7 separate regions of the Homo sapiens genome follow, and all the other regions are linked to region 3. The links come from fine-mapping of genetic effects on gene expression. A gene starts in region 3. Each other region holds a variant in brackets. All regions are shown on one strand. Distances are between the middles of the regions.

The links.
Region 1: its variant is fine-mapped to the expression of TAPT1-AS1 in B cells (Fairfax 2012, PIP 0.95).
Region 2: its variant is fine-mapped to the expression of TAPT1-AS1 in whole blood (TOPMed, PIP above 0.99).
Region 4: its variant is fine-mapped to the expression of TAPT1-AS1 in whole blood (TOPMed, PIP above 0.99).
Region 5: its variant is fine-mapped to the expression of TAPT1-AS1 in blood mononuclear cells (TOPMed, PIP above 0.99).
Region 6: its variant is fine-mapped to the expression of TAPT1-AS1 in whole blood (TOPMed, PIP above 0.99).
Region 7: its variant is fine-mapped to the expression of TAPT1-AS1 in whole blood (INTERVAL, PIP above 0.99).

Annotation. Positions count from the first base shown.
Region 1 is chr4:16,289,117-16,293,184 of GRCh38, forward strand. The region is part of intron 2 of LOC124900674 (a long non-coding RNA gene); the gene reads left to right. Among named protein-coding and RNA genes, the nearest start is that of TAPT1-AS1, 64 kb to the left of the region's middle. The variant G/GAA (reference allele first, on the strand shown) is at 2,337.
Region 2 is chr4:16,139,182-16,143,249 of GRCh38, forward strand. No RefSeq gene overlaps it. Among named protein-coding and RNA genes, the nearest start is that of PROM1, 57 kb to the left of the region's middle. The variant A/C (reference allele first, on the strand shown) is at 1,880.
Region 3 is chr4:16,224,417-16,228,484 of GRCh38, forward strand. It overlaps TAPT1-AS1 (TAPT1 antisense RNA 1), which reads left to right and starts at 2,247. Exons shown (of 3, transcript NR_027697.1): 1 at 2,247-2,761. TAPT1 (transmembrane anterior posterior transformation 1) reads right to left here and starts at 2,055. Exons shown (of 14, transcript NM_153365.3): 1 at 1,843-2,055. The coding sequence starts at 2,041. RefSeq lists silencers at 1,608-1,987, 2,098-2,147, 2,158-2,257, 2,268-2,337, 2,398-2,597 and an enhancer at 3,108-3,167.
Region 4 is chr4:16,181,343-16,185,410 of GRCh38, forward strand. The region is part of intron 7 of TAPT1 (transmembrane anterior posterior transformation 1); the gene reads right to left. Among named protein-coding and RNA genes, the nearest start is that of TAPT1, 43 kb to the right of the region's middle. The variant A/AT (reference allele first, on the strand shown) is at 1,968.
Region 5 is chr4:16,128,369-16,132,436 of GRCh38, forward strand. No RefSeq gene overlaps it. Among named protein-coding and RNA genes, the nearest start is that of PROM1, 46 kb to the left of the region's middle. The variant A/T (reference allele first, on the strand shown) is at 2,373.
Region 6 is chr4:16,313,290-16,317,357 of GRCh38, forward strand. The region is part of intron 2 of LOC124900674 (a long non-coding RNA gene); the gene reads left to right. Among named protein-coding and RNA genes, the nearest start is that of TAPT1-AS1, 89 kb to the left of the region's middle. The variant A/G (reference allele first, on the strand shown) is at 2,519.
Region 7 is chr4:16,330,357-16,334,424 of GRCh38, forward strand. All of the region lies in intron 4 of LOC124900674 (a long non-coding RNA gene), which reads left to right. Among named protein-coding and RNA genes, the nearest start is that of TAPT1-AS1, 110 kb to the left of the region's middle. The variant T/C (reference allele first, on the strand shown) is at 2,373.

The DNA of each region.
Region 1 (4,068 bases), 65 kb after region 3:
TCTACTCAGGCAATTATAAACAGTAGAAAGTCTGAAATATTTAATGTGAAAACTTAAAAAAATAGTCTAAGAGATCACAAAGGGAAAGTTTAATTCTCTCTGATTAGAGATTGACTTCCCAGAGATGGTAGTATATGAACCGGGGCTTGGAGAGTGAACAGAATTTGAACGTGCCCAGAAGTGTTTCTTGAGAGGAGATCAACATGGCTACAGCGTTAGCCATAGGGAAGGGCAGGATGTTTACATCAGAAATAGTGAGGGCGGTTGGAAACAAAGGACTGGATATAGAAAAGAACCTGGCATCTGAGATACCTCTTCATAGGTGTGATAGTTACAAGTCTAGGATTCCATAACATCACTGAAGGAAGTACTGTCAAGCAAAGGTTCTAAACATGGAACCAGGAACTTTGTGAACCCCCCTGAAATTGTTGGCTGAAATGTGTGAGCATGTATGTGAGTGTAGGTGTGTGCAAGTGTGTAAGAGTGTGTGTTCTGTTTCTATCAGAGTGTGTGTGCCAGGAGGGGCACAGTCATCTGAGTGTCTTTTTCTGGAAAGAATGTCCGTGGACCATGGGTGACCATTGGTTTTCTATGGGTTACAAAACCTGTGACAAGGTGCATAACCACTACATCTAGAAAGAGAAGGCAAAGAACATACCTTAGGAGTTACATAGATAAAGTAGATTTGGTGAAGGCTGGAAGAAAATGGCCAGAGAGAACCATGAACATCTACTATTACAGAGGGCAAAGAGAGAAGTTATTTAAAGCATGGAATGACAGGCCAACTGTGCCTAAGGAGGATGAGATATCAATAAACAGATGAGTTCCACCAGGTGTGTTCATCTATGTTCTCTTGGGTTACCTGGAAATCATTTGCAGACTTTAATGGATGCTTTACATGATTAGGAACAGTCAAACAAATGCAATCACAACTGAAAACAAAGCCCTATTTAAAAATGATCCACAAGATGGCACTGTGGGCCAATAAGAATATTCATCTGGTTTTCACAGTGAAATGTTTCTCGTTCATTCGTTTTTCTCTATCTTTTGCTAATATACTGCAGCCTGATCCCATACCTTATTTGTCTATTAAAAACCCTGGCATTTGAAAATAATATTCCTAATTTTTATGATTCCTGCTTACTCTTTATATAATCCTCAGTAGAGTTTGGAAAACCTTCATTTAAATTCTGGTTTCAATACAGGAAGTTGGATCTTATTTCTAATATACTGAAAACCCTTAGAAGGCTGTGTGTAGTCAATGCCGGAATTTATTGGTCCTTGGGGAGCTTCGAGATTGGGAAAGACAGGAGGGAAATAAAGGGAAAAGAGAGAGAAGGACTCTAAGTTTGATCAGAAAAGCAGAGAACACAAGTTTCAGCCATGATTAGCCTGGCAAGAACATAAAGCACCCAGGAAATCCACATAGGTGTAGTGTTGCTTCCAAGAAAAAGAATCTCATTCTGGGGAGTGTGTTAGCTAGGGCTTTCACTTTGAAACATGCATTATTTATTTGTTATTATTATTATTATGCAGAAAGAACAACAAATGGCTTAAATTAGGCACCAAGACACAGGAGTTAAAATGTGTCCTTTTGTCAAAGAGAATCATAATGCAATCTTACCCGTATATGGCATGTAACTATATAGTTTACAAAGAGCTTTTATACGTTCATCATCTTGCTTGATTCTCAAAACCACCCTGTGCGTGGGAAAGGTCACCAACCCCACTTCACATATCAGGACACTGAGACCTTGGATATGTTCAGAGACTTGCTCAAGGACACACAAGCAGGACAAGCTGGCAGAGGAATCTAAGTCTTCAATTTTCTTCTCTGCAAAATGGGGTTAATGGCGCTTACTGTCGCAGAAGTGTGTTAAACATAACCACATAGTAAAAGTCTAGACAGAGAATCAGTAAATGTTAGCTGGTTTCATTATTCATAAAAAGAACATTACAATGTCTATTTCCAATGATATATATTTTAAAGATATTTAGTTGCAACAATAGAAACCACTTATCTTGCTAACTTAACTTGCCAACAATCTGCTAAATTACCTTCCGTATTTCCTCCACGTGCCCATTGTTCATGGGCAATAAAAAAGGAATTTATTGGAAGGACACAGAAGAGCTTCAGAATCACAGGAAGAGCAGAATAATGTGGCTTTGGAAAATACAGGACACAGGAGAGAGGCTGGCTAACCTCAGGGTACATGTATACGCCATAGTGAGGGGAGGCAAGGATCCCTGGCTGATAGTCAGCCAGGGGGACAAGTTCCCTGAAAGGGAAATTGGGATGCTATTTTAGAAGAGAAGAAGAAATAAGTGCCTGGTAG[G/GAA]AAAAAAAAAAAAAAAAACATGAAATGCCACTGCACAAAGTATTTCTAGAATGAAGGAGACCTTAACGTCACTTTACGTAAAGCTAATGATAATGACCGATGTTTATTTAGCACTTATGTGTCAGGCACTGTTACATTTATTCACTCATTTAGTCCTCGTGATAACCCTATGAAGCAAGCAGTATTATTAGTCTCATTTTACATGGGAGAAAACGAAGGCACATTTGACCAGAGTAGCAGAGCTGAGTTAAAAACCCATCTAGAGCTCATAACAAAAGACAACAACAGTGTTTAGAAGATTGTTGTAAAAATCAAAAGAGTTAATCTTAGATAGAAATATGAAATTGCTGGTGTTTATCCATTTTTGGCCTAGAAAAACAGCCGCTGCATATGACTCTACCTAATACCTTTACAGCAATCAGAACAGTGCTAGAACTTAGTGCCTGATGATGTTTCTCATTGTTACTAGATTATCCTGCCTGTCTATAGGCAATGGGCTTTAAAAACTATTAAAGTGTGCAGGTCCATTGTCATTTAAACTGGACTGGGTTGGGGTAAAGCCCAGGAAGGTGTCTTTTGTCTAGTGCCACATTGCAGTTTTCTAAGGAGCTAAGGAGCAAGTTAGGCATTGTATTAGGTTTTATTATTATTATTATTATTTGTGATTTCTATGTGTCTATGCATCTCCTTCGGATCTTTCTTCTCATACATCAGCTTACAGCTTATTCTTTGGGACTGGGAGCACAGCGAGAGGTCATTGTTTCATGGCAATGCAACAAGAAGTGGAGAAGCCCTGCCTTACCATTCAAAGCTGGATCCCCTCTCCCTCCTCCGTTCACCCCATGCCCCATGCTTCTTGCCCTGATGTGTCTCTGAAAGCATCCTGAAGAAATCAATTGCATGACCAGAGCTGGAAGTGTCTCTGGGAGCTGTTTAGTTCAACCTATTTATCAAAGCTGTTTATCAATGAGGAAGTGGGCTCAGCTAGTCAAACAGCTGCAAAAAAGGTCGGGGGGCTGGTTTACATCTAGGAGGAATTGTGGAGGACCAGTACCAGCCCGGAGTCCTCTGAACCCCAGATTAGGTGGAAAAATCAGTGACTACACCGTTCACTGCAGGTCCAAGCACACAGCTCCACACGCCACCCTGAAGGAGAAAAATAAGTGCTGCAGGCACATTTCCATTCTTTTCTTTCAAACACAATCCTCTCTCCAATCTGCCTGAAGAAGAAAGGCCATGCACGAGCCACAGGTTACTTATTTTCTGGAAGGATAAATGTGGGCCTGTTTCCAGTAAAAGTGACTTCCAAGAAGCATGAGCCTTCTTGAATACTGACCCACTTCCGGATGTGATCCTGGCTGCGGCAGTTTCCAGAATATCATCAGGGTAACTTTCCCGCTGTGCGGTCTATGTTGGAACTTACATCGTCTTTAAAAGGCACAAATAGCTGAATAACATAATGTAACCTGATGTTCTGACAACCCCACTTATACTCAGGCTAAATTTAAAGGTCACCATTGCAGGGAAATAGTGGCATGAGAATAAAAGTGCCTTAAACATGGATTTCACTGATGTTTCCTCATTTCAAAATTCTTACGCTGTAAAATAGAGGCAAAATGGCCTGTGAGCTTGAAAATATATGAAGTGAAGAATCCATTTCTTGGGAACAAGGTGGTTTTAGGAAAAATTGTAAAATAGGTAGACACAAGTGTACAGTAGCCAAAGTTTATCT
Region 2 (4,068 bases), 85 kb before region 3:
CCTTTTTATTATTTTTAGAGGCAGAGTCTCGCTGTGTCACCCAGGCTGGAATGCAGTGGCACAATCATAGCTCACTGCAGCCTTGAGCTCCTGGGCCCGAGGGATCCTCGCAGCTCAGCCTCTTGAGGAGCTGGGGCTACAGACCCACACCATTGTGCCTAACTTGTTTCTCCTTCTTTTCTGAGAGGAAAGAGAAAAGCCAGGGCTCCTCATCCTAAATGAGGGGAAGGGGCAGGAGAATCTCTGGGGAGGGGAAGGGGTGTCCATGGGCCAGTCTGGTTTCTGACTACGTGCTGAATGTCTCCTAAGCTGCTAAACTGTGCACCCAGGGCCACTACAAGGCCAGAGCAGAGTGCAGTGACAATGCTGGGTGACACCTTGGCCTCCTGAACTTTGGAGGTCACACACTAGAGTCAGCTTTTTTCCTGAAGATGTCCAGGATGCATGAGGAGGATGGTCAGGCAGCCTGGGGAGCAGCCTGCACCCCCAGAGACTGGCTGGGCAGAGGGAACACCAAGGAAGGGGCCGGACTAGAGCCACCCTGGAAACAACCCTGCCCAAGCAGGCTGCCTGGCAGAACTCCAGGGCGGGCCCCTGGGGCGGGAGATGAAGAGATGAGAAGGAGCTGGGAGAGGTCAGAACAGAGGGTGCATCTATCATGCCAGCAGGCCCCAGGTGGGGGCAGGGGTGGAAGTGAGGCTAGTGGATATCTCTGAAGAACCCACAAAAGGTACCTCTTGGAAGAGAGAAAAGAAAGAGGGCTGTTATGGGTTGAACTGTGTCCCTCAAAAAGATGTGTTGAATGAATTCCTCACCCCTAGAACCTGTGAAGGTGACCTTATTTGGGAATGGGGTTGGGGCTGATGTAATCAGTTAGAATGAGGTTGTAGTGGACCAGGGGGGGCCCTTAATCCAATATGACTGTTGTACTTATCAGAAAAGGGAAATTTGGAAACAGACACAGAGAAGAGAGCACCATTTGAATAGATGCAAAGATTGGAGTCATGGTATCACTATCTAAGGATAGTGCTTCGGGGGCTGCCAGAAGCTGGAAAAGGCAAAATATGACCCTGCCCCAGGGGTTTCAGAGGGAGGCTGGTCCTGCCAACACCTTGATTTTGGACTTCTAGCTTTCAGAACTGTGAGAGAATAAATTTCTGTTGATGTAGGACACCCAGTTTGAGATATGCTGCTATGGCAACCCTAGCAAACTAATATAAGGGCCAACCTTTGGGCATCTGCCACATAGAAGACCCATGGCCAGATACTCCAAGAGTCAGGTGAGGCAGCCTTGAGTTCACATCTCCCCTCCGCCACCCACCCCTTCCCCCAGCTCCAGGTGCAACAGGGCATATGAGGGACACACCGGGTCCTATTCCTGGGGCTGTCCTTGCCTAAGCTGGGGAAAAGGCAACTGCTTTGAATGGGACGTGAGATGGAAAAAAAAAAAAAAAAAAGCGAAACAGAAGATCTGAGTGGCTTAAATTGGACTTCAATCTTTTTACTACTAGAACATGCTATAGGATCTACCTAGACTGTGAGAAGTTTCCCCAAAGAGTCCACAGGAAACATATAGGTAGGAATATCTGATGGGCTCTGGCCCAAAACTTTCCTCTAAGCCTCAAGGAGAGCCAAAGCACTATTCTGAAAATGTTGGAGGCAGAAGAAAGTTTTCTCAGATTCCCTGGCATCTCCTGGGCTTCTCCATAAATGGAAAGAAGGCTCAGTTCAGCTTCACTGAAGTCTTGGATTCTTGTCCCCCAGGGACTGAAACCAAACCTGGAGCCCAGGTCACTACAGGGAAATGATCCAGACCTCAAGGAATTTCAAAACACTTACTCAGGCAACAGCTTTACCTGGAAGCTGGCCAACAAAGGCC[A/C]TATAATGGACAGAGCAACATTCTGTGGTTGGGGAAATGCTTTCAGAGAGGCAAGCCTTTGGGACTGTAGATTAGGATCCAAATACCAGTGTAAATAGAGTAGAGCTTCCTGGTAGAGGGCTTGGTTGCTCAAGGTGAACAGTGTGTGTCTTTGTCCATGGTCAGCTCCACAGTCCAGAGTAAGTTACTCTATCATCAGAGTTAATGGCAGGAAACAGAAAGTCCCCTAGTGGGTTTTAGGTATACAGAGAATTAATACAGTTAATTAGGTGCTTCCAGAAATCATCTGAAAGCTGTCAGGAAGTTGGGTGGCTCTAGACTGGGTCTCTAGGAGTGTTTAAAAGGCATCCCAAATTTGTTTTAAGCTGTTATGGTGAGACATGAAAGTGACTGTCATGAAGAAGTTTGCTACTCACAGGTCCCTAGAAGCAGGGCGTGCAGGGCCACATGGAGAAGCACCCATGTTAGTCCTTTACTGAGGTTTCCACAGGGAGGAACAGGTGAGGTAGTGTCAGCAGCTTTAGGATTGTCTAATTTGAATAATCTTAGCAGGCTCTTGGGCACAGGGGCTGCCCCTGGTTGTGTGTCCCTAATTGTCTTTCCCTAGGGCTGACCCCGGTTGTCCAGCCCTGGGGTGATTAGAGCAGGCAGATAGTGGCCTGGAGTATGAGAACAGATATAGGAGGTGGTTGGGGTATGGCTCTGGATTGGTTGGTTTGCATATGAAAGGCACATTGGCTCACACACCAGACATTTGCTATTCCTAGGAATTCGCTAGTCCAGTAAGGGGTGGTCCCTCCAGGGTCAGCAAAGCCCCAAGATGTCAAAGCATCAAAAATACAGAATAAAAACACAAACTGGGCAAGGAATTGCTTCTGCAACATTTGAGAAGGCAAGGAAATGGGGCTACAAGGAAGCTCATGAGTGCCAGAGGATTAAGATAGTGTCTGTAAACCACTAGTAGAGTTAAAGGCATTAAATCCTCAATTAATAGCGACTGCTACAATTCTTAGCATTGCTTTCAGTTCTGTAACTTGGGCTACACAGACAATGATCACATTATTAGGTTTGCACTTAAAAAGAAAAAAAAGTCCCCTGTCATTTGACTATCTCTGAGACATCTGGAGTTTGAGACTCTCCGGGAGCACAGTACTAATCACACGTACACTCCAGCAATACTGGATGCACTAAGTTAAACTGGTGACCTGGAGCATATTTGAGGTGCGTAGTTCTGAACCTTACCTTTTGATAAAGGTTTGGTCCTTGCTGGGGGCTGACATTGCCTATAAGAGGACCTAACAAAGCTCAGTGCTCTTTCCAGCATCTTCCTGTAATACCCTTAGAGGTCTTCTAATCGTGTAGTGCTTTCTGTTGCCCACTAGCCAAGGAGCAGAGTGAAGTGAGACCCAAACCAGAAAGTAAACCTGAAATGCAGGCAGAGAGGGCCAATCCCCACATGCACAGAGCAGAAGTGCAGAAAAGGGGGGCAGAGGACACAACTCTTGTGAGCACCCTGGACAGCTGTTTTGCATTTAGCCATCGGCAACGCCATGAGGCTGAGATGTGTCTCAGTTTTATAGAGGATGGCAAAGCTCAAGAGGTTATGCACTAGCAGAGGTCCCACAGCAGGGTTCACACCCAGGTCTACCTAACTCTGCAGGCCAGGAGGCTTCCAACCACACTACACAGCCTGGAGAAAGAACTGCACATGAAGAATGAGCTGTGGAGGAGGCTGCCATCGCCATGCCCATAGAGGGCAGCCAGGTGTGGTTGGGGAAACGGTGGAGTGAGGTCAGAGCCTCAGAGAACAGCAATAGAGGCAGGCTGCAAAGACTTCCCCCCATGTCCCTGTTCTCCCACAGATGCCCACCCAACTTCCCAAACTGGAACTGCATTTCTGTGCACTTTTGCTAATGGAAATCCCAGCAGAGGACTTTGTGACTTTTATGGTTTGTTTTAATAACACACCCCTCACGATTACTAAAGTAATACACATCATTGTAAAACAGAGAAATGGACCTTGTATGAAAACAAGCCACCACACCCACTAGGATGGCTGTCATAAAAAAGACAGATAATAGCAGGGTTGGTAAGGGTGGGAGATATTGGAACCCTCATAGTCTGCTGGCTTCTGGTACAGCTACTTTACAAAACAGATTGGCAGGTCCTTAGAAAGTTAGACAGAGTTA
Region 3 (4,068 bases):
GAGCAGGGACACCAGGGGAAAAGAAGGAGGGGCTTATGTGGAGGCTCAGAGAGAACACTGGCCAGTGGCTCCAGCTGAAATACTCCTGGAATTTGGAATTCTCACCTAAATCCTGATCGCCAAGGCTAGTGTGACTTGGTAAAGCAGGAGTGGCCACTGACATCTCCTCACACAAAATCAATGGAACTGGGGAAAGAACAAGGACTACCCCAACAGCTAAACCTGGAGGCATCTCCCTGATAATGACTTCCTGCAACTATGGGTTAAAAAAAATCCAGCCTTAAACATGGTGAACCATGTTGGTGAAGAATGGATACGTGGTATAATGAAGTCCATGGAAGTCCAGGTATCCAGTCCCAGAAAAAGCCAGGGAAGAAGTGTTAAGTGATACTGCAAGCTCAAGATCTGTGCTCATCAATAGGCTTCAAACAACTTCATTTCCTCTCCACGCAAACAACAAAAAAAGGCTTTTAAAATGGTGGCTTTCCTGCAACTGAGAAATGTTTTAAAGAAAGTATAGTGAAGCCTGGCTACATCTATCTCTATTTACAACAGAGTGCTTTTAATATTCAAGTCTAAGTAAGTAAACAGACAGTTGAGAGATTTGCTATTTTGTCTTACTGAGATCCTGCCAATGAAGAAAGTAAATACTCTTGAAAGCAAATGTTTAACTGAGAACTAAACCAAATAAAGTATGGTTGAGAATTTTTAAGTGGTTAATTGAAAAAGACCAAACAAGACCGTCTGTAATTTTCCAAAAATATAGACTGCTTCAAATAGAACCTACGTCCAGTTCTGGGAATCAGCAAATCAATTAGAATCGCATCTGATCAACTTTATGCCCCTTAAGTAGTTTTAAAATTTCAGTACTCAAGTACAATCAATGATGTAATCAGCCTCACAACTTAGTTATTTGCATGAACTTCAGGAAATAACGGCTAACACAGCCCCTTTTGGACAACAGAAGTAATTTTTTAGTTGGAAGAAATTTAATGGAGTTATGGTTCAGTTGCTGTTTACAGCTTGAGAATTAAAACGTTGGGTTCACTCTATATTCAAGAAGACATCCATCTCAAAACCTTTTTTCATTTAAAACTAATCTGTAACTGCAATATGAATACAAATGCAAGTTTTAAAAATTCTTTTAAAATGAGAATAAAAACCTACAGCTTATAGAAACTGTAACATTGTAACAATACGTTTAAAACTGGTCATTGAATGTAGGATTCATAAGTACACATTTTCTCATCTAGTAATTTTTTTGGCATAAGTTTCAGTTCAGGAAAAGTTCAGATGCAACATTTTATGGAGTGTTAAATATTTCTGTACTGGGCAAAACTACTGAACTTCATGGTCACTACCACACCGTCAGCTGTCTGTGAAAAATCTACTTGCAGGGCAAGTTAACAGGTTTCTATGGCTCAAGTTTGCTTAAAATACAGAACAAAAAAAGTCACCTTGGCATGAATATAATTAAGAAATCAGCCGTGTGCTTCTCACGTTTGGGCTCCGAGACGTGGGAGATGCCCGCTAACCTAAGACCTTCCGAGGGCGATGCAAGGACCCGGACAGAACTTTCCCGGCCGCAGACCCCTTCTAGGGCACACCTGGCCTGGCGCGGCCGCGGGGGCCTCGGGGCTGCGCGCGCAACCCGCCCGAGGAACTGTCAACGGCCGCGGAGCCTCGGCAGCCTCGGCGGCTCCGCGCGCCCACAGCCTGGGGAGCCCCGGGAGGCAACGGCAGCCGCGCGGCTCGGGGGCCGGGGTTCCAAGGCGCCCCCGCCGCCCTCGGTCCCCAGTCCGCCCCTCGGAGCCCGCCACGGCCTAGCGCCGCCCGCCTCACCTGTGCGGCCCCGGCGCCTCTCCCGCCGCCGGTCGCTCTCGTAGAAGCCCAGCGTCTCTGTGAGCTGAGGCGCCGGCGGGGGCCCCTGTCCGCCGCTGCCGCCCGGCTGCTCCGCCTCGCCGCGGCCGTCCCGCTGCGGGCCGTCCACGCCGCCACCGCCGCCTTCTCCCGGAGCGGCCGCGTCGCCGACGCCCGCCATGTTCCGAGCACAACAAACTGTCCCCGCCGCCTCCCTCCAGCCTCTGCCTCCGGCCGGCCCCCTCCCCGCCTCGCCCCGCCCCTCGCCGGAGCCCGAGCCGCCGCCGCCGCCGCCGCCATCCGCGGCCCGCCGACCGGCGCGAGCCATTGGCGTCAGCGACGCGTGTGAGGCCGCTGCCGCCGCCGCCGCCGCCACGGTAGCCGCCATCTTCTTCCTGCCCTCGCCGTGGCGGGCGACGGTTTCTCGCGCCGTGGCTGGCTCGGCCGGCCGGGGCACCGCGCCGGGCTCCATGCAGCCGGGCTGCGCGGTCCCGCAGAGCGGGCGCCTCCGGGGCTCGAGTCGGGGACCCGGCAGGAGCGGGCCGGGGATGGCGGCGGCGGGCGGCGGGTCGGCCGTGGAGCCCCGGAGAGGCGGCCGCCACCACCGCTGCCCGCAGTCTGCGAGGTGTCCGGCGGTCCGCTCAGGGCCTCTTTTGCAGACTCGGTGCCCGGAGTGCGCCGGCGCCGCCCGCCAGGTCTTGGCACTGCTGGCGCGGCCGCGGCGGCGGGGGCCCGGCTCCAGATCACCGACCCCCACGAGCGCCGGCCCTGCCTGCCCGCTATTTTGGTTCCATCTCTTCTGCATATTTATGCTTGCCTGTTACATTCCCTGGCCTCTGAGTGTCCTTTGGCAGTTTCCAAAGCATTTGGGCAAGAAGGAGCTTGGGCAGCTTCACAACAGGTGGGGACGCGCAGGGGAGGGGCCGCGGCCGGACCGGCAGAGTTTCAAGGGCTGGCGCGCCGGCGGACTTTCCACACTGTCTTTCGGGACTGGGGTTAGGAGACAGCCCTTGGCCACCACTGTGTCCTTACTTTGTCGCTTTACTTGGGGCTGGACCTCCCCTTTCCAGCTCTGGCGTGTGACCCCGCAACGAGCGTGGTGTCGAGACCACCACCAGCTGGGGCGGTGGGAGCGAAGGTGCCCCAGGCTCGGGGAAGGTGGAAACCTTTTCCCCGCTCCCCAAGTGATTGTTGCGCGCTCCGGTGAGGGGACAGTGGTACCTCGATTTCCCGTGTGCCAGCTTCGGGACTCAGCTGTGCTTTTGTGTCTCTTTGATTAGCAAAAGCAAAACGAATTCCTCCCCGAACACTAAGCTTCCTGGAAACTTCCCTAGACCTAAACTTGAGAACCGCATATAAATGGGCCTTGAGGGTTCTGTCGTCAGTAGCGGGTTACGTGATTGCAAACGAGCAAGTTTAAAACGGAGTGGGCTTTGGGCTGCAGAGCCGCCTGGCATTCTGACAGCTGAGCAGGAGGCAGAGGTGAGAGTCCAAGATGGACTAAAAATGTCCCAGCAGCTGGGAGCCCAACCTCGGCCCAACCTCGTTGAAAGGAGGAACATTCGGTGCAGCCGTCGGAACCTTATTATTTATGAAAGGGGACAGCTCACAGGATTACATTTTTCTAAGCCAATCCTGTGACCATCCTCCATGAAATTCTCTATTTTGGTTGCATGTGGTCAAAACTGAGCCTCACTGAAACAATTGAAAACAAATACTCCCGACAAATCTTAAGAATCGTTTTGAAAATCAAAAGGTGGGGAAAATGTTGTGGCTTCTGAGCTTTCTTCAGCCCATATTCTATTATTCTCTGATGTTTTATGGTGTAAAATCATACCCATTCCATTATGTATTGATTGTCAAGAAGGAAGTAGGCTTTTATTGCTATTTTTATGTCAGTTTCCATTTACTGTCTCACCACATTTATTGGGTTATTGCCTTTGCCTTTGACTCAACAGGAGCTGGAAGGGTAGGAATCCCAAATTCTGTTGCCTAAGGCAGCCAGTTGTCAGAATGGACTTTCCTCATTTTCTATTATGAGGCCTGAGGAAAGACATTCAGTTCCAAAGGCTGTGCCTATCCTTTTAAATAGAAGAGAGAGGGCCCGGCACGGTGGCTCACGCCTGTAATCCCAGCAGTTTGGGAGGCCGAAGGGGGCGAATCACGAGGTCAGGAGTTCCAGACCAGCCTGGCCAACATAGTGAAACC
Region 4 (4,068 bases), 43 kb before region 3:
AATTATCTGAAAATAAATGGCCTTGAGAAATTTAAAACACTATCTGAAATGAGCCAAAGTAACTTTTGTAAACTCTAACAAAGCAAAACTACCATCGAATTTAAATTAATTGTATTTGATTTTTGGACATATGGCAGCTGCAAGTATAGAGAAAATCTGCAATAATTTCATTTCTAAGGATACTGATGAAAGGGGGAAAAACTTATCTCATTAAAGGTGTATTTAAGGCAAAACAGATTTTATTTTTTAAGATTTTTTTATTTTTTTGAGACAAGAGTCTTGCTTTGTCTCCCAGGCTGGATGCAGCCTCCACCTCCCGGGTTCAAGCAATTCTCCTGTCTCAGCCTCCGGAGTAGCTGGGATTACAGGCATGTGCCACCATGCCCGGCTAATTTTTATATTTTTAGCAGAGACAGGGTTTCACCATGTTGGCCAAGCTGGTCTCCAACTCCTGATCTCAGGTGATCCGCCCATCTTGGCCTCCCAAAGTGTTGGGATTACAGGCGTGAGCCACTGTGCCTGGCCCAAAACAAATTTTAGAAAAGCAGACTATTTCAAAATATGATAGAGATTAATAAAAATGGATAAATTTGGTAAATGAATGCGATTTTATAAGATGAAGGATGTGAAGGATGGCAAGCTTAAAGATTAAAAAGTGACACCATAAAAATTAACTCTATCTTTATTTGATAAGATAAAGATACAAAACTATATCTAACTATAAAAATGAGGCTGTTATGTGAAGATTTTTTGGAAGTTTTATTCTTACACTTTCACAACTTTTACATTTAAATGTTTTACATAGACATTATAAAATCAAGATTTGACTTTTAAAATTTGAGTTAAAAAATACCCAAATTTTAAGTTTCTCCAAAGTAAGATATAAAAAGAAATAAAATTTTTATGAGAATAACAGAGTCTGATACTGATAATCAAACATATATTAGATAAATAATGCAATCAGCAACATATTTATACCATCTCATCTTCAGAATAGTCAGGGTTCGGATTAGAACTGAACTCTTACATTGATTAAAAATTAAAATTTCTAGGAATGTTTTCTCCTAACCTTTATTAAGAAGCTTAAAAACATTGGTATTAATGCTTTTAAAATATTTCTGACATTCAGGTTATTAAGCTTTTTCCTTGCTATATTACCACTAACAGGGATATACTTTAACATACTTGCAGTCACATTTTAAATATAAAATGAGTGACTATTTCCAACAAACATCCACATTTATTGCAGATATGCAGGCTTCTAAGAGTGCTAAGTGAGCTATAAGCTTACTCCAGACAACCTAACTCCTGAAGGACCTTTCTAAATGCACAGTTCACATTACCAATGCGTAAAAAACTACCTAAAATTCTTCATCTCAAGAATGCAAACCAGAAAGGCTGGGGTTCCACATTCAGCTAACGCTTATGTTAAAATGAAGTGAAGAAAAGGATAATTTGTTAAAAATCTGGTTTTGGTAACTAAACTACTTTTCACATGTCCTCAGGCAATTCCTCCAAAGAAAATATACAGTGAGCTACCACTGAAAGGGGTAAAGTTACTCTCAGATTTCTCCATGAAGTCTTCTATATTAAACCAGCATGAAGGACTGAACCTTACACTACGTATCTGGCAACTCAAATTCTGATGGAGAAAAAATTCATAGGAAAATTCATAAGAAAAAAATAGCCGATATGAGTATCCCTCCTGACTGGCTCTCATTAAGTAGCTACTACTGAAGCATATGAAGAAGGCAACATATTCATATAAAGAGTAAAAAGCACCTCTTGGTGACTCCTGATCTTTCCATTTTAATAGCTGAACGTTGCCTAGAATATTTTTTTTCTTACTTGAGAAGGGTCTTAAAATCTGCCTTAGGGTAAAGTTAATTTCTTATAAAACTCTTAAAGGGTACAATGCGGACCACCTTGCATTGTAACATGAGCTACTTTGCTTACAGCAAAAAGTA[A/AT]TTTTTTTTTTGGTGCTAAGTAGTAACCATTTTAAGCCAAAATAAAGTCCAAATTTCTTGTAGACTGATATGCATACCTGATCATTATATCATTTTTTTTCCCAGAGTTTTCTTAAAACTCAAATATTGAATACCTAATCTTTCTAAGCTAAGAGGTTGGAATTCTGGGGAACCCGTTTATAAAAATGAAAAGGGGTATTAATTACATCAACATGCTGGCCATAAGGTTAAAAACATTCACAATTTCCCCCTCATAATTTTGAAGCTTTTATACACAAGGATTGAAAACCTTTAAAACTTAAGATCTGCGTGTCTAGTTTAAGGCTCTATAAAGAGCACTTACCCAAAGGAGGTTACTAATATGAATTAATTTAAAAAAAACATGGTTTCCACAACAAACGAAATTCTTACAGTTGAATCAATTTACTCTATGGTTAACTACTGAAGCAAAGTATTCTATAATTTAGTACCTTCCCTCCTTCCTCTTTCATTTCTAATTCATGACACTTGGCAGTCTGCACTTGAAAGGTGAGCAACATTAATAAGCAGCAAGAATATGAACTGCTTCTCAGAGCCTTGAGAGTCAGGTCCAGCATGGCCTCATAGAATCATCTAGGCTTTATGTTCAAGTTTTCCATTTGTTCTTTTTGTTCCTTGCTTAGTTTTCAAATCTCCTATAACTTGTTTAACATATTCATATGCCATTATTTTCCTTGTCTAATATACAGGTAAAATTTACATACAGTGAAATGCACAGATCTTAAGTACATTATGTGATGAGTTCTGATCAATGCATAACTTGAGACACCAAGCCCTTAATACAGAAAGAAGTTCCATCATCCAGAAAGCTCCTTTGAGTCCCCTTAGTCAATCCAAATGCCCAACAAACAACCTCTTATTCCTATCATCATAAACGAATTTTGTCTGATCATAAACTTCATATAAATGAAATAATACATCATGTACACTTTTGTGTCTGGCTTTTCTGCTCAACATAATGCTTCTGAGACCTACATAGCTGACAATATTAGGAGTTCATTCTTTTATCTTTAATTGCTAAGTAGTATTCTATGGTATGGATATACAGTTTGTTTATTTTCCTACTGATAGCTATTTGGGTTGTTTCCAGTTTTTGGCTAGTATGAACAAAGCTGCCATAATAATTCTTGCAACAAGTCCTACTGAGGAAATATATTTCCTGAATTACAGGGCAGGTGAACATTTAACTGTAAAAGAAATGGCCAAAAACAGCAGTTGTAATACTTTACACTCACGCCATCGATGCCTGAGTGCCAGTTAATCCATATCCTAACTTGTGGCACTGTCAGGCTACAAGAGCAGTCACTCTGGAGGGTGTGCAGTGCTATCTCATTATGGCTTTGTCTTTCTCCAGTGACATTTTCCCTAATAATGCCGAGCAGCTTTTCATGACCTTATTGGACATTTATAGATTTTCTTTTGTGAAATGTCTGTTCAAGCCTTTTCCCCATTTTAAAACTAGATTGTCCTTTCATTATTGATTGGTATAGTTTGTTATATATTCAGAAAACAAACAAACAAAATCTATCGTCAGATATATGCATCTCAAATCTTTTCTCTTAGTACTGTGGCTGGCCTTTTCACTTTTTAAGTTTTATGATCACATATTTTAATTTTGAAGAAGTCCAGTTTCTCTCTTTTGTTTTACATTTAGTACTTTTTGTGTGGTCTCCAAAAATGTTTGCCTAGACCAAGGTTGTGAATGTTTTCTCCTATATTTTGTTCTAGAAGTTTTATAACTTTAGCATTTATGTTTAGGGTTATGAACCACTATGAATTAATTTTCTTGGGCAGGGAAGGGGCCAAAGTTCTTTTTTTTTTAACCTTTATCCAACTGTTCCAGCATTACTTGTTGAGAAACTCTTCTCACTAAATTTTGTTTTATAAAATATCTTTTTTATTGAAATGTTATTTTTGTAAGCATGTAATATTTTTATTAAAATTTCTCAGTTTTCATTTCGAATATGGTGAATAGGGAGAGACATAATCCATATAAATAAAAGTCCTTTGGAATCATCGTAATTTTTTTTTTTTTTTGAGACAGCGTTTCACTCTAGTCACC
Region 5 (4,068 bases), 96 kb before region 3:
CAAATCGATAAGGAAACCCTGTTGGTGTTATGGGTATGGCCTTGACAATGGAGAAGATTTGGAGCTCCCACACCAGGTAGACCTGTGAAACATGTGATGTTTCCTGCGGCCTCTGAGAGGAGTGAACCCCTGCCCACCCAATCCCCTTCCTAGACCTTTCTGAGCCAACAAAAAAACTCACCTGAAACACCTTGAAACATCTGTTATTCGTGACCCACGACGCTGGTGCTGGTCCAGGCCTCAAACTTTGAGTAGCTGTGGCTCAAACTAATTTTAGTTGCATGCTTTATTACTTGCATCCAAATGCATCCTATCCAATCAGTGCTTTTGGTGGGTATGTGACAAAGAATATTTTTACTTTATATTTACAAAGCTCTGATACAAATATTAGTTCACTTGATCCTCACAACAGAACTAGGAGGTAGCCTATTTTGCAGAAGAGCAAACTAAGACTTAGAGAATTGCATTTGTCAGAATACTTCTTCTTGCAAGTGACAGATAACTAACTCCAAAGAAATTTAAACACAAAAGAGAAGCTGACTTAGGTATCCAGAAAGAATAGGGGCAAGCCTCTGGCACAGCTGCATCCAGTGACTCAAGTTATTTTTCTAGGGCTTTGTTAATTTTATTCTTCTCTACTACCGACCAGCTTTCTTCAAGAAGTAGAGAACCTGACCATTAGCAACCCAAGGCTGCTATCTCGTCCTATAGGATTCAGACTCCAGAGGAGAGTATTTTCACCTGCCCAGTGTCCACATACAAAACCCCTTGAACCATTTACAGAGGGTAAGAATGGATTGGACACAGTGTGAATGATTTGGAAAGGCCCTTGATAGACAGGCATGAGATTACGTGGCTTACATTAAGGTGGAAGAGGGGGAGGTTATAGAAAGCAGTTGGATGTGCGTAAGTTGGGATATTTTCATGTAAATATATTTTAAAATCAGAAGAAAAATACTTTATCAGAATTCTTATTGCAGGGTCTGAGCCAGAAAATGGGATCCCCGTGGCTGTAGCACTTATTTGATCCTACAGCTTGTAAATGTACATTATTACCTCCTCCACCAGATTACAGGGACACTGACAACAGGAAACATTTCTTTCATGTATTCATTTACTGAACAAATATTTGTTGCCCTGCTGTGGGCCTGGCTCAGGGAATGTCACTGATAAGGCTGAGTCTGTTTTGATTAGGAGGTCTTATCTGAACAGCTGGCCTTTCTGTGTGCCTGGTGTCCTAGGAGAGGCAGCCTTATAGCTGAAAGAACCACTTCATCACATTCTCCTAAAATAGAAATGTATGTGATCACAGTTTTGCTACATTCACACACACACACACACACACACACACATCAGTTAAAGAGTTTCACTGCAAATACCTTAAACAGATATTGAGAAGGAAAGAAAAGGAGAAAAGATGCTGAGAAGGCCACTAGCTGTGTCTGCCATGATATATATTTGTAATAAGATGTTCTCATATTGAACCTAATGTTTTCGAAACCTCAATACAGAGAATTGGAAACACATTAGTATTTTTACATACAGGCAGATAAGGCAGACTTTATCTTTGGGCAAAGACGATACATTGATTTTTGTTGTTGTTGTTGCTGTTTTTGAGACAGGGTCTCACTCTGTCTCCCAGGCTGGAGTGCAATGGCATGATCACAGCTCACTGCAGCCTCAATCTCCCAGGCTCAACTGATCCTTCCATCTCAGCCTCCTGAATAGCTGGGACCACAGCTACTGTCAGCATGTTGTCAAGCCCAGCTAATGTTTTTAACTTTTTTGTAGAAACAGGATCTTACCATCTTGCCCAGGCTGATCTCAAACTTCTGGGCTCAAGGGATCCTCTTGTCTCAGCCTCCCAAAGTACTGGGATTACAAGCATGAGCCACCATGCCCGGATGACACATTGATTATGTGAAGACACCGTAAAAAGACTCCTATAATCTAACACAAAGACCAAGACCTCTTCTGAACTGAAGAAATTCTGAATGAAGTTTTGCTAACCATAGGCTGCAAAATGATACAGGTGGATGTGTTCATTGATAGAGAGTTGCATTGCTTTGAGGATCAGGTTTGATCTGTCTCTTTGGGGTCCAGGACTAAAAATATCTGAATCTGGCAAGGAGAAATGGCAAAAGACTGTCATCTTGTTTGGAGACCAAGTAGGTCAGAGGTAGATGTGGGGCTAAGGAGAGCCCATCTGAGAGGGATTGGTCCCTCAAGGCGGGACTCAGCCTCTGGATCTGGGAGCCATGATACTTTGTGTCCTGTTTAAGTGGTTTGTTTTCTTTTTCTATTTTTAATTACCTTCTGAGGATATTGCCTACAGGGATATTTTATTAACTCTTCCAGTCTTGAGTCCACTG[A/T]GGTCTGGGGATTAGGGAGGCAGGATCCAGGCATGGGAAAGCTTCTGCTGTGAAGTAGTGAGAGAACATCTGCAGAGAGTGAGCAAGGCCTGAAGGGAGGTTGTTATTGAGGTGACAATACACATGAAAGACATATTTTGGAACATGTTGGTGTCCCTCTGGGACCCCTCGGAGAGACTCTGTTAAAACTCTGTATTTTCTGCTAATCAAATAAATGATCTGGGGCTTGGGCCTACACTAGTTGTTTTTTTGTTTTGTTTTGTTCCGTTTTGTTTTGTTTTGTTTTGTTTTGTTTTGTTTTGTTTTTGAGACAGAGTCTTGCTCTGTCGCCCAGGCTGGAGTACAGTGGCTTACTGCAACCTCTGCTGAGTGGAGTACTCAGCTTGAACCGCCTCCCAGGTTCAAGCAATTCTCCTGCCTCAGCTTCTCAAGTAGCTAGGACTACAGGCATGCGCTACCATGCCCAGCTAAATTTTTTTGTATTTTTAGTAGCGATGGGGTTTCACCATATTGGTCAGGCTGGTCTCGAACTCCTGACCTCAAATGATCCGTCCACCTTGGCCTCCCAAAGTGCTGGGGTTATAGGCATGAACCACCATGTCTGGCCCACTGGTTGTTTAAAGGAAGGGTTTCTCATAGGTTAGAGAACTTGGGAATAGCCAGGCGTATACTAGGGGTTCATAGAAGTTTGACTTTGGTCTCAGTGTTTTTCCAGATATACAGTTCCATTTAACCTTGGCCTTTGGAAGGCTCAATAGCCAAATGCCCACCTCAATGTCATATCTGGCACCTTTGAGCTATTATAAACATTCCTCTTATACTTCTACTCCAGGGAAAGGCTGAAATCTGTGTGCATGCAATGAAAACTGAGATGCACTAGAAATTTTGGTGGGATCTTACTGTCTTGAAAACCAATTACCTAGCTTTATTACCACATTTCTAGATCCAAAATTTAAGGACACATTTGTCTCAAAGCATCGTATAAAGTGTCAAGTCCATGCAAAAGTATAGGAAATTTAAAACTGCAAGAAAGGGCAACAATCTTAAGAGCACATTTTTTTTTTTTCTTTTTCTTTTTTTTGTGACAGAGTCTCGCTTTGTCGCCCAAGGCTGGAGTGCAATAGCGCGATCTCGGCTCACTGCAACCTCTGACTCCCAGGTTCAAGGGATTCTTGTGCCTCAGCTTCCCGAGTAGCTGGGATTATAGGTGCCTGCCACTACACCTGGCTAATTTTTGTATTTTTATTAGAGATGGGGTTTCACCATGTTGGCCAGGCTGGTCTCAAACTCCTGACCTCACGTGATCTGCCCGCCTCGGCCTCCCAAAGTGTTGGGATTACAGGCATGAGCCATTGTGCCTGGCACTTTATAAAATATTCAGGAAGTATTTTCTTTCTTCCTTTCCAATCTGTATGCCTTTTCTTTCCTTTTCTTGTCCCATTGCTAGGTCTTCCAGTATGACATAGGAGTGAAGAGAAGTTGTCTTTGTCTTATTTTCCATCTTAAAGAGAAACCATTCAGTCTTTTACCATAGTATGCTGTTAGCTGTAGGATTTTTAAAGAAAATATTACCTTTACTGTGTTAAGGAAGTTCTTTTCTAATCCTAAATATTTGAGAATTTCCATCATGATGTGACTATATGGGTTTTCTTATTCCATCTGCTAAAAATTACATCCACTGATTTTTAAATGTTGA
Region 6 (4,068 bases), 89 kb after region 3:
TTGTGGCAAATATACCATCCCAACATAAGATGTTAATAATATGGAAAACTTGTAGAGGCTATGTGGGAACTCTCTGTACTATCTTCACAAATTTTCCATGAATCTAAAACTCTCCTAAAATAAGCAAGTTATTATTTTATTCTATTTTATATTTCTATTTCTTATTGTATACCCTTTGCAATCCTATAGGCAAGTTATTTTTATTTTAAGTTCTGGGGTACATGTGCAGGAAGTGCAGGTTTGTTACATAGGTAAATCTGTGCCATGGTGGTTTACTGCACCTATTGGGTCATCCAAGTTATTTTAAAAATTAAGTGAAAAGTAATGCAGGCATGACTGTATAGCAAGACAGAATCACAAAACTGATGTTAAATAGCTAGAGTTTGGGGCTCCCCACTCATCACTGTGCTATGTCTTTACCTTTGAGGAGCTTAAAACATGGAGGAAGATGGGTGAGGGCCAGGAACTGTATGCCAACTAACAATGAGATATAGGGATGCAGAGGCAGGAGGTGAGGAGCAGTTAATAAGAGGCTTTGCAGAACAATCATGGAAGGGCATGGAAAGGCGTTGCAAACAAAGGGAAGAGCCTGAACAAAGACATAGAGGTGGAATCTTTGCAGTTTTGACAAGAAGACATGTTCGTTGGAAGCTTGGCAGCTGTCTTCGATGGTGTCTCTTTCTTTGCCTCCCATTTCCAGCTTTATTGCAATTTACTTATTTAGTGTGATGTCTCTTGAATTAATCCTTTTCTCTGAACCTCTTCCAAATTACTTTGGTTTAGGCCACCTTCCTCTGGCACTTGGCACACTAGTCTGGTTACTAGCTCAGGTACTGAAACCTAAACTTCAGTTCTTTGTATTTTGGTTCCCTCCTCTTTAAAATGGGGATTGTAATGCTGCCTAACATCTCAGCGTATTTGTGAGGACTAAATTAGTTAATAAGAGAAAAGAGCTTAGGATAGGGTCTGGCACATAACATGATATAAGTGTTAGCTATTATATTATTATTTTTTTGTTTTTAACACAGAGCCAAAATTACTTATAAAACTTAAATTTAAGAAGCAAAAGCACTACATATGTGTGATATTTGCTTTGGCCTCATTTCTTTCTGATTTGATAACATCCATGCAATTCAGTGGTGATAATTTGTGTGACTGCTGATGTGAAATCATTCATTCCATCAGCTTTGAGTGCCATTGGTGGCAGATGCTGGCTGTGTATCTAGAACTGTGTCTGAAAAATAAAATGAATTCAAGGTCTATCACTAACCAAAGAGGATAACCTTGGGGTTTTTCACAGTCTGTGTAGGGGATATTGCCTTTGCAAAATCGATGTCAGAAGAGACCCAGTCCATCAGCGGAACAGCTACTGGTAAGGAAGGAAGACAAAGCAGATAGTGATGGTCACACTACAGGACATCAGGGGGCCTGCAGAGAGCATTCTGAGACAGAGCAGTATAGAGGCTATGAGAGTGGACTGTGGTGTTTAGCCAGGGACTTCTCCTCTGCCACTTGCTTGCTCTGCGATCTGGGAGGGGTTAGGTAACCCCTGAGCCCTGGTTTCCTCATCTGTAAAGTAGGAAAAGATGAGAGCACCCACCTTTGATCTTAGGATTGGTGTGCAGCTTTAATGAGTTAATAACTATAAAACACTTGGAGCAGTCCTGACCCTTAAGGAGAACTTCCTAAGGAGTCAGAGACCCCAGAAAGGTGAATGATCTCATCTTGACCCCTTGATGTCTCTCCATTTTCCAGAGCTGCTCCTGTGAGGCCAGTCTGCGTCACTCTGTGATGCTGGGCCAAGACCATGCAAAGAATTAGTGTCAAGGGTTGTCAGTGGAGGCCCCCCTCTGGACATCTTCAGTGATAAGCCAATTGTGAGCTTGAGAGCTGGCTCATTCCAGCTTCAGACCATCCTAATGAGGAGAAAGAACCCCTGCTGGATGGGCTAGAAGCTTCCTCCCATTGCTTCCACCCACTGGCTATCATTTTGCCCACTGGTCATAATGGACCTTGTCCTTCTTCCTGACACTCCATCAGAGCACATGGAATTAGCCATCAAGCCACTCTGAGTCTTCCTTTTTCCAGCCTAACTGGAGATGGATAAGAGAATGTCTGGGTGTAGTAGGCTGACTTTAGATATCTAAAGTAGACACGGTCTGTTTTCTCGAAGCCATCGCATCAGAACCTGTGTGCCTCTGCAGGACTCAAGTACCAGCTCAACAAAGCGTGAAGCTGCCTGTGTTTTGGAAGAAGGGATGACTGTAAAGGCATTTTGTTCACAAGTATGCTTGCCCAAGGGCCTGCACAGTCTAATTTCCTTCAAGCCTCTCCAGAAGCTCCATTTCCTGATGATCAGTGGTAAACTCCCTGCAACAGGATAGGTGGCGTGAAATTTCAGATTTTATGCAAGTTCACGGCTAGAACCAATGCACAATTACTGCTAAGAGTTTGATTTTGTCACTGTGAAAGCCCCGCGGATTAGGCCTTTCAGAAGAAAGGGAAAAGCCGCTTCTGA[A/G]TTTTTAGCCTCTGTTGGGTACTTCACCATAGAACAGTGCTCATACTGCCAGTGCATTTACAATGTAAATGTTTTCTTTCCAAGGTCAAGGTTTTAGAGCCCAAGGCCACTATTGAGACCGCAGGGGCAGAGCCATAACAATTCTGCTGGCATCCTAAAAATAAAAAGCTTTATTTTCAAATTGATGATGTGGTTTAAAAGACAGAGTCTCAATAATTTACTTTTCTGCCACTTGCATCCTTTTTCTGTTGATTGGGCCTGGGAGAAAGAGGTTGGCTTCATATCGAGGGAGTGCCAATTTCTGAGACTTGCGTAAGACTAACCCTCTTGGATTCTGGTACTAATGTCCCAATCTTCTCCTCCCTTCTCCATCCAGGTGTGAGCTGTTAGATTCACTGAATCCTTAGGCCGAATCCTAAGCATGGTCAGGCTTCTGGCAGACACACCAGCAGAGTGTGGTGACACAAATTCTGAAAAGACACCAAAGGGGCAGCAATTGACAGAACTGAAGTGCCAAAGGCTTTAGGGAAAAGCTTCCCATGGCCGCCTCAGAGGGTCAGACAAGCATAGGAGGCAGGCTAGGGTTCTCAGTTCCTCATCATCATCCCTTTCTTCTTTCCAGGTCTCATCCTCCACGGAACAGAGAATGGTTTTTAGAGTAACAATGCATCCAAGGTATTTACTAAAATGGACACAGTATTAGCACTCTTAAAATTTGTCTTGAAGTTGCTCTTCTCCAAAGGCCCTGGAAGATTCTAGTAGGAGTCATTATTGCTTTCTCTGGAGGGGTGGATCTTTGCCTTGACCATACTGGACTCAGGCAGTATGAAGTTGGGGCCCTGGGGAATAAATCTGCGGGGGGCAGAGGAGAAAGAGGAAGATCAGAGAGTATAGCAAAGAAGAGAATGCACAGGTGAAGGGCACTGACCTATGAACAAGTTCAGTCTTGAGTATGTGTGAATGGAAAACCAACCCACAGGCAACAGCAAGTTCCTGCCACTGTCTTCTCAGTTGGCCCACGGTCAGCTACCAGTTAAGAGCAGGTGTTTGCTGTTACTGGACTGCACCAGCAGGCCCATGCAGAATTTGATGTATATAATAGCAGTCTTTCACATAGTTTTCATTTATATATAAACATATATTCATTCATACATATATATATTTATACATGTGTTAATATATGAATATATCAAAATATATAAATATTATATTCATATATACTTTTATAAATTTATATATGAATATGCTATGAATACAGAATATACTTTATACATTTATATGTATATATTTTTTTCCAAGCACCATGTTATTCATAACATCTCCCTCGAAATCCAACCTGTTTTTCCCAAGATTGAAGCAACCATTTCACAGCCATCAAATGATAGCTGTTAATCTTTTTTCCATCAGTCTTTTGGGATTTTTGAAAGACACTTTTTAAAAATGAAGTATCATTTAGAATTGTTTTTATGGTGCTTGAGAATCTTGACTGACTGAGTACTTCTCTGAAGGGAAGGGTTTAATATGCGTTTGAGTGCTTTTCTCTACTCCCT
Region 7 (4,068 bases), 110 kb after region 3:
CTTTTGCCTATTCCTCTCCCTTTGCTGGAATGTAATAAATTCATATTACCTGCAGTTTTATATTCAGGTCATTTTATTTTCTACTTAAAGGATTTTAACCAATATTTGGCTTTCTATTTTTTACATAATAAATGTGTGAATATATCTCTTTATAAACCATTCATTGTTTTTGGATAAAGCCAAAGTTCCCCTAAAATACCACCCTTCATCCCTTTCTATATTGCAGAGGTAACTGTGTTTATCTTTTGGTGAAGTTCACTCCTGAGTTTGTTATCTCAGCCTTTACATACACACCTATGAGGGGTCTTCAAAATGTTCATAGAAAATGCATATTATGAACAAACTATGCATGGTTTTCACTTTTTTTTGCACCAAAATAAACTCATACTAATGTGTTATACTGTGTCTGAACAGAATCTAGTTTAAGGCACTAAGAAGGACAATATATCAGTTTGAAAAGAATCCTTATCAGAACAACATGAATTCTGCTAAAATTGAAGCAAGAACAAACATCAAATTTATGGTGAAACTAGGGTGGAAAATTGATAAAAATCATTGATGCTTTATGAAAATTTATGAGGATAATGCCCCATATTATTCAGCAGTTTACAAATGAATAATTTGTCTTAACAAGGAATAAATCCAGTGTTGAAGATGAAGCCCGCAGTAGCAGGCCATTCACATCAACTTGCAAGGAAAAAATTCACCTTGTTTGTGCTTTAATTGAAGAGGACTGATGATTAACAGCAGAAACAAGAGCCAACATCACAGACATCTCAAATGGTTCAGCTTACACAATTCTGAATGAAAAATTAAAGTTTAACAAACTTTCCACTTGTTGAGTTCCAAAACCATTGTGTCCACCAAATCATCTGCAGACAAAAAAAAGTTTTCAATGAAAATTTTAAACAAGTAGGATCAAGATCCTGAAGCATTTTTTAAGAAGAATTGTAACAGAAAATGAAACAATGCTTACCAATATTATCCTGAAGACAAGACATAATCAGAGCAATGGTTACTAAGACATAGAAGTGGCCCAGTCAAAGCAAAAGGGAACCAGCCAAGAGCAGAGGTCATGGTAACAATTTTGGGGGATTGTCAAGGCATTTTGCTTGCTGATTTTTCTGGAAGGCCAATAAATGATAACATCTGCTTATTATGAGAGTGTTGAGAAAGTTAACTAAAGCTTGAGCAGAAAAAAACAAAAAAGTCTGGGAAAGCATTACTAGAGAGTCCTATTCCACCATGACAATGCTCCTGCTCACTCCTTTCATCAAACAAGGGAAACTTTGGGAGCATTTCAGTGGGAAATTATTAGGCATTCACCTTACAGGTGTTATTTGGTGTCTTCTGACTTCTTTTTGCTGTCTAACCTTAAAAAAAATCTGTAAGGGGCACCCACTTTTCTTCAGTTACCTCATGTCAAGATCCTTAATTTAATCGACTGATCAGTCCCTTTTGCCACATGAGGTAACATATTCACATTCTCTTCCTTTCTGCAAATACTTACGGAATGCCACTATGTACTTGGCACTATACTAGACACTTGGGATATAGAAGTTAACAGTGACAATTGGTAAGAAAGACCCCTAGCACCTCTAAAGGAATATAAAACATGATATTTCATATAATTACACATAAAAATCACATAAAAACATAAATTTCACGTTCTGCTTCAGAATACTAATGTGATAGTTTATAATCTAAAAAAGGTTGCATAGACATGGCTAAATTTTCAGGACCCTCAGTTCTTTAGGGATGAACTAAATGGCTGAAATCATAGCTTACAAAATTGTCTTGACTTTGATGTGAAATAAAACTTACATATTTTATTTTTATCTTTTAGTTCCACTTTCCGTAAACTTTTTGAAGTCCTCTAGTATCTGCAATCTTTAGAGCCTTCCTCTACCCCAGAGGTCACCACTGTTTTGGTTTCATAGAAATGGTACCAGATCTTTTCCCATGCATTTATAGACCTGTATAAATCCATGGGTATTTAGTTTAGTTTTGTGGAGGTTTAAAAAAACTTACATAATTTATTTTTGCAAATTGTCTTAAAAACAATGACAATGTGTCTTGAAAAATGTTTCCCTGTTACTACTAATGGGCCAATCACATTCTTTTAACATACAACAAAGTGTTCTATGGGTACTGTATTAGCTTCCTATTGCTGTCATAACAAATTACCACAAACGTAGTGGTTTAAAGCAATACAGATTTATTTATTTATTTATTTTAAAACATTTATTTCTGGTTCAGGGGTACAAGTGAAGGTTTGTTACACAGGTAAACTCATGTCATGGGGGTTTAAAATTTATGGTTCAGAGGTCAGAAGCTGAAAATGGGTTTCACCGGGATAAAATTAAGGTATG[T/C]GCAGGGGTGCACTCCTTCTGGAGAGAGTGTTTCCCCTTTTCATGGATAAAGATCCTTGAGATTACATTCAACCCATCTGTATAATCCAGGATAATCTCTCATGTCAAGATCCTTAATTTAATCAACTGCTCAGTCCCTTTTGCCACGTGAGGTAACATAGTCACAGATTCCAGGAATTACAATGTGGACTTCTTCTGCATACCTCAGGCCCCATAGTCTGTAGCTGTTTTCCTTTTTTTTCTTTCTGCATGCTCCTTGGTGACCTTTCTCATTCTCCTGGATGATGCTACATTTCTACCTTCAACGCCAGTTACAGCTATTTATTGAGTCTATCTGCCCTCTGAGATCCCACAGGCTCTGGAACCGTGCCGTTTGTCTTCTTCAGGCCTTTGCACATTTGCTCTCTTGGTTTGAGGACTTTTCCCTCCTTTCAAGTCACATTATCTTCTTTGTCCTTCAAGACTCAAGGTGTTAGCATCCTTCCCCAGGATGTTTTCTTTCCAGATCAGTTCATACCTTCCAGAACTATGCCTATTGCAGTTTTCATCCTGTATTCTAAATGCCTGTGTTTTACCTGTCAACTTTCTGGGTTTATCTATTATTTCTTGTAACCCTAGTGCTTGGACCAAAAGTAGACATTTAATCAATGTTTGTTGAATATATGAGGTCAGAAAAAGCAGTCCTGAGGGCAACCGTTTGCTTTGAAATCTCTCTTAAAGTTGCAGCTACCTCTAGATTTCCAACCCACGAACTTCTAACATTCTCCAACTGGTACAGTTTAGGAAAAGGGGGCTGCAAGTGTGACTTCATGCCAACCCTCCAGGGGTTGTCTGAAGAGCTCAGTTTGTATCAGGTGTCTCTGCATGCAGCTACTTTAGGTCCTGGCAACCTTCCCTTCCTCTTGCCCATTCAGGAAGAAAGGTGAACTGCTCCTCTCTGTCATTAGTCCCAGGGTCCTATGCTTGTTCTCATTAGCTTTTCTATTCCTGCCCATTCCTTTGAGGTATTCCCTTTACTTTCTTCTCCGTAACTTATCCATCTTGAACATGCTCTCTGTTTCCTGCCAGATCCCTGACTAACAGGGGCAGTGGTCATATCTAATCTGTAACCAGATCCTCAATAGTTCAAACCAAGCCTGTATCTCAGCACTCAGTTGATGCTGATGGAATGAATATTGAATATTCTGTAATAAACTTACTAAATTTTGTAATGTCATAGTGTAATCGTGAAGTGTTATAACTGGACCTGACTTTTGATATTTTCCAGCCAAGACCCATCATTTTACCTAAGCGAATTTTAGTTTGGAAATTGTGATGGAAGAGAGAGTGTGCAATAATGGGTAGAGGAAAGATTTCAGAGTCATGTAGACTTGGGTTTGGATCAGAGGTGCCACTGGGCATACTCAGTTTTGTCAATTGCTAAATGAAGACAATATTACATCACTGGGTTGTTGAGAAGATTAAATGAGCTGATGCACCTGAGTTCCCTGGTATAGAACCCAGATGTCCTGGTTTCCATTCCAGGGTGCACGCCACCATTTGGCCAACCAAACTGAGCTGAATATGTGATAGTTTAGTATATAGGAAGGACTTCATGTGGCCCTACTCCTGGTGTGTACGTCCATGTTGCTAAACCAGTGATAAGAGATGAAGGAGTTCTTACAGCCGGCTCCCAGCTGACTCTTCCAGACCATAT